Linked DNA regions of Homo sapiens: region 2 is linked to region 1. A link means that fine-mapping ties the variant in region 1 to the expression of a gene that starts in the linked region. Tissue or cell type: NK cells. Region 1 holds a variant in brackets; the other region holds the start of a gene. All regions are shown on one strand. Distances are between the middles of the regions.

Region 1 (2,500 bases):
TCTGCTGGCTGCTGGGCCAGGCAAAGGCATAACCCAGCTCTGCCCACCTGCCTGAAATCTCAGCATCTTCACTCGAGGGCCACTGGAGCCTGTTCTGAGGCACCACAGTGTCCCCTGCAGGGCCTACCAGGGAATCTCACACACAGTAAGGTGCTCAAGTATTTGCTCTTGAATGTGAAAGTCTGTAACTGTGTTTGTCTCTGCTTTTGCTCACATTTGAGAGAATGAATTCCATACTTTTATTTATTTGTATCTTGTGAGAAGTCATGTGTATATTTGGCCTGATTGGTTGAACGTTCTGAGGTTGGTAAATGTGTTTCACTGTTTTTGTTTGTTTGTTTGTTTTTTGAGACAGGGTCTTGCTCTGTCACCCAGGCTGGAGTGCAGTGGCACGATCTTGGCTCACTGCAGCCTCAACCTCCCAGGCTCAAGCAATCCTCCCACCTCAGCCTCCCGAGTAGCTGGAACCACAGGCATGCACCACCACGCCCAGCTAATTTTTGTAATTTTTGTAGAGACAGGGTTTCACCATGTTACCAAGGCTGGTCTCAAACTCCTGGGCTCAAGCGATCCTCCTGCCTCAGCCTCCCAAAGCACTGGGATTATAGGCATGAGCCACCATGCTTGGCCATGTGTTCCATTTCTAGTTCCTACCCTGATCCATCAGGAGTATCTACCTAGAGTACTGTGTGAGGAATGGTTCTGAGGCTCAGTGGGGAAATATGATCCATTAGTTTTGTCTGCTGTGGGTATGAGATGAGGAAGAATGATATGTTTGTGATGTATTTACTCTCCCTGGTCTTTAAACTCATGGGCAGTGCCATTCACCCTTCACCCCTGCTTAAGCCTGGAGGAATTTTAACCTGGAGGAACTGTTTCTGTCTTCTTTTCCTCCTCTGTTAAAACTATGGTGTCTAGGCCCAGGTAGGTTCCAATTCCTAGGCTCTTCTCTTACCTCCATCCCTTAGTTTTCTCCCAATATTCAACATATAGTAAAACCTAATAAAAGTTAGAGTAAGAAATGGACAAATGATGGTGGGATGGGTAAAATGATGGAAGACTGGGTGGGTGGGTTGATGGGTGGATGGACTGATGGGTGAGTTAATGAAAGGGTCTGAATAGAACTGAACTATGAATGTATGGGTAGATGGACAGATGCGTGGCTGGATGATTATGTAGATGGGTATGTAGGTTTGTGGATGGCTTTATGACTAGATTAGCGATGGACAGTGTCCTGGGTTTACAAGTGGATGGAAGGATTTGTAGATGGTTGGTCATTGGATCAATGGATGGATGGATAGAAGTGTGGGAGTTTTATTTTTTATTTATTTTATTTTATTTTATTTCATTTTTATTTGAGATGGAGTCTCACTCTGTCACCCAGGCTGGAGTGCAATGGCACAATCTCAGCTCACTGCAAGCTCCGCCTCCCGGGTTCACACCATTCTCTCGCCTCAGCCTCCCGAGTAGCTGGGACTACAGGCGCCCGCCACCACGCCCGGCTAATTTTTTGT[GT/G]TTTTTTTTTTTTTTTTGTATATTTTTAGTAGAGACGGGGTTTCACCGTGTTATCCAGGGTGGTCTCAATCTCCTAACCTCGTGATCCGCCCACCTCAGCCTCCCAAAGTGCTGGGATTACAGGTGTGAGCCACCGTGCCCTGCCGAAGTGTGGGAGTTTTAGATGGATGACTGGCTAGCTGGTTGGCCAGGTAGATGAATGGATCCACAGGACACCTGATTCATGGGTGGGTGGGTGAGTGAATGTATGGATGGATGGAGTCATGGGTCCATGATAGATTAATGGGTGGACAGAAGGATGGATGGATAGATGGAGAGATTCATGAACGGGTTGTAGAAGACTTGGTTCATGGATGAGATGGATGCAAAGATGGATGGGTGAATGGGAAAATGAATATATGAATAGATTCATGGATGAATTATGTGTTGGTAGAAGACCTCATTAATGGATGGGTTGATTCATTGATGAACTGGCGAATGAATCTTGAATGGGTTGGTAGAAGATCTGATTCACGGACAGCCATATGTAAGGATGGATGAATGGGTAGATAGGTGGATAAATGAATACATTCATGGGCGAAAGAGGAAAGAAAGAAGGAAAGAAATGCCCCTTTCCTCCACTACCCTACCCTTATCCCGCCCATCACTCACTGGTTGGCCTTTCTGACAGTGGTGAATTGTGAGTGATCACCCTTCAGGGGCCCCAGAATAGGTGTCTGCTGGAGCGAAATCTTCGTAAGACTATCCTGGAGGTGCGATGACTGGCCCCTTAAAGACAAACAGGCCACATCTGGCATGAGTGGCCAGGCTGTCCCGCCCTGGAAACATCGATGGCAACCCCGTCCCCACCAAGAAGCGGACTGACGCTTACCACAGGTCTGGGAGGAATGAACAGTTGGGACACCGCGGAGACCCTGGGCAGTGCTCTAATACACCCCTTTGATGTTGCGGTGCTGGGGATGCTGGAGCCAGGAGGAAACAGTTG
Region 2 (2,645 bases), 23 kb after region 1:
GCACAGCTGTGGGACCGGGTGACCGCGCAGCCTGTGGGTTGGTGGGCTTTAGTCCTGCTATCATCATCAGCAAGCAGGGCCCTGGCTCTGTGGGTCACAGGGGCTTGGGGGAAGCTCTGAAGTAGAGAGAGGGCCACGCTGCATCTCTTAATACGGGAGCAGACTGGGATTTGCGGAGAATGGGCTGGGTCTGTCTGCGCTCTCCTCCCGCGTTGCCCAGAGTCCGGTCGCAGACTTAGGTACAAAGCCTCACACACCTGGGCTGCTGGGACTGAAGGGACCACCAGCCTGGAGGCCAAGAGCCCAAGCCCGACTTTGATGCTTCTTCCTCAGAAAGCCCTTCCATCCTCAAACCCGCAGGACCCCAGCCCCGGCAACACCTGCAGCCAGGACAGCAACACAGCCTCCTCCCTCCCCTCACATTGAGACCTTCAGCTGATATTGATGAAGAAAGCCTACGTTTCCACCAGAGTCCCTGGATGGCGAGACTCATCATTACCACGTGTTGGAAATACCAACTGACAACCCCCTCAACACCTGAGCCGAGCCCCTTCCTTCTGCTCTCCCCTCCCTTCCACCTCGCGTGCCGCCGTACAATTACTTGTCAGTCTCTCCTCTGGAGCACATGCGCCAAGAAGGCGGGGGTTTTGCTGAGCCACTGATGGACCCCAGGTGCCTAGTACCATGGGCAGTGAATGCAGATTCGCTCCCGACCCCTTTCCTGCAGGTCCACGACAGACCAGCTCTTGTCTATAAAAACGCAAACTCTGCTACAAAAGCCCACCTTCACACTGCTCTGGGGTAACATCTGAGGCCTCACGGATTCCACCCTGCTCCTCTGCCACGCCGGGGGGTGGCACAGGACAGGCAGGCGACAGGGTGGGGCTGAGGCGCAGGCCCTGCGACAACCCGCGGGCCTCCGCCCTCGGGCCCTCCCCGCCCTTCGTCTCCGCCATGCAAGGGGCAGGAGTGGGATCCGCGCGGGGCAGCGCGCACTCCGAGCCACGCAACCCCGGCTTCCGCCCGTCCCTTCCTCTGTCAAGGGGGACGCATCCACCCCGCCCGGCTTGTGGTGATAAAGTGGGACGCTGCGGGGTCGGAGCGGCCTCGGCCAGCTCACGGGAGGGGGTGAGTTACCGGTCCAGAGACTCCTGCCGCTCGGGGTCCTGGATCCCCAGGGAGCCCAGAATCGCATCCACCAGCGGCTGGTACTCGAAGATGATCCTCCGGAAGCCGTGCAGGAACGGCATCGCCGCGGGCCCCGCGCAGCAGGGCCGTCGCGCTTTCTGCCGAGGCCGAGATGCCCAGACGCCGACCGGAACGCTCCGGCGGCCGCGGACCCCACCTGCTCCGCCAGTCCAGCCCCTGCGCCCGGCCGGGTCCGCTCCTCAGTCCAAGCCGCGCCCCCGCCGGAAGTGACCCTCGTACTTCCTGCCCGCGCCGACTCAGGGTGGGCCATATGGCGACAGCGCCCCCTGCGGGCTCGGAGGACCTCGGCGCGTCCTGGGGCACGACCGCCAGGCCGACTCGGGCGATGTCCAGTGGGCGGCCCCAGCGGAGTGGGAGAGTGGAGGATCGAGCCAAGCCAGATCCGAGACTCAGGCGGGTCCGCCCCTTCCTGCCAGGGCCCGGCCCGGCTCGGCTTCGCCCTGCGATCCCGCCCGCGACCGCTGGGCGCCGTCCGAGTTCCGCCGGTCGTGCTCTCGGCCCTGCCGCTGCCCCACTGGCCCTGGGCGCCCCTGAGAGCTGTGGTCATCAGACACTGCCCCTTCCGGTTCGGGCTGGCCCTCGCCTTCCCTGAAGAGGGGCTGGGCCACCTCTGTCACCACCCGGCCCGCTGACTGGAATGATGAGGACCAGGGTACTCGCACGTCCCCTCCTCAGTTTCTTATTCTCTGTCCCGGGGAGCACCTGGCCAGGACGGCTGCTAGCCCTCTCCACCTCTGCCTTGATGGACTCAGTGAATCTTGTTTTTTGTTGTTGTTGTTTTTGTTTTTTTGGGGGACGTAGTCTCGCTCTGTTGCCCAGGCTGGAGTGCAATGGCACGATCTCGGCTCACTGCAACCTCCGCCTCCCGGGTTCAAGCGATTCTCCTGCCTCAGCCTCCCGAGTAGCTGGGATTACAGGCGCTGGCCACCACGCCCAGCTTATTCTTGTATTTTTAGTAGAGACAGGGTTTCACCATATTGGCCAGGCTGGTCTCGAACTCCTGACCTCGTGATCCTCCCACCTCGGCCTCCCAAAGTGCTGGGATTACAGGCATGAGCCACGGTGCCCAGCCCGAATCTTGTGTATTTTTTAGAGACAGGGTCTCACTCTGTCTCCCAGGCTGGAGTGTAGTGTAGTGATCATGACTCACTGCAGCTTTGAACCCCTGGGCTCAGGTGATCCTCCCGCCTCAGCCTCCCGAGAAGCTGGGAACACAGGAGTGTGCTACCGCCTGTCTCTGAACTTGGATTTCCTCATCTGTAAAATGGGTAGAATCCCCAGCACTTTGAGAGGCCGAGGCAGGTGGATCACCTGAGGTCAGAAGTTCGAAGCTGCAGACCGGCCTGGCCAATATGATGAAACCCTGTCTCTACTAAAAATACAAAAATTACCCGGGCGTGGTGGCAGGCGCCTGTAATCCCAGCTACTTGGGAGGC

Alleles and levels. Alleles are on the strand shown, and positions count from the first base shown. SD is a standard deviation of normalised expression in the study named.
As copies of GT replace G in region 1, the expression in NK cells of the gene that starts at base 1,402 in region 2 goes down (small effect, 0.39 SD a copy in Gilchrist 2021).

The links. PIP is the estimated chance that this variant, and not a neighbour inherited with it, causes the effect.
Region 2: it holds the start of ASB6, and the variant in region 1 is fine-mapped to the expression of ASB6 in NK cells (Gilchrist 2021, PIP 0.90).

What each region holds. Positions count from the first base shown.
Region 1 is chr9:129,617,354-129,619,853 of GRCh38, forward strand. It overlaps C9orf50 (chromosome 9 open reading frame 50), which reads right to left. Exons shown (of 7, transcript NM_199350.4): 2 at 2,387-2,477; 3 at 2,167-2,283. It also overlaps a transcript of NTMT1 not described here. Among named protein-coding and RNA genes, the nearest start is that of C9orf50, 2.5 kb to the right of the region's middle. The variant GT/G (reference allele first, on the strand shown) is at 1,515.
Region 2 is chr9:129,640,750-129,643,394 of GRCh38, forward strand. It overlaps ASB6 (ankyrin repeat and SOCS box containing 6), which reads right to left and starts at 1,402. Exons shown (of 6, transcript NM_017873.4): 1 at 1,138-1,402. The coding sequence starts at 1,250. RefSeq lists an enhancer at 1-462 and a silencer at 1,169-1,768.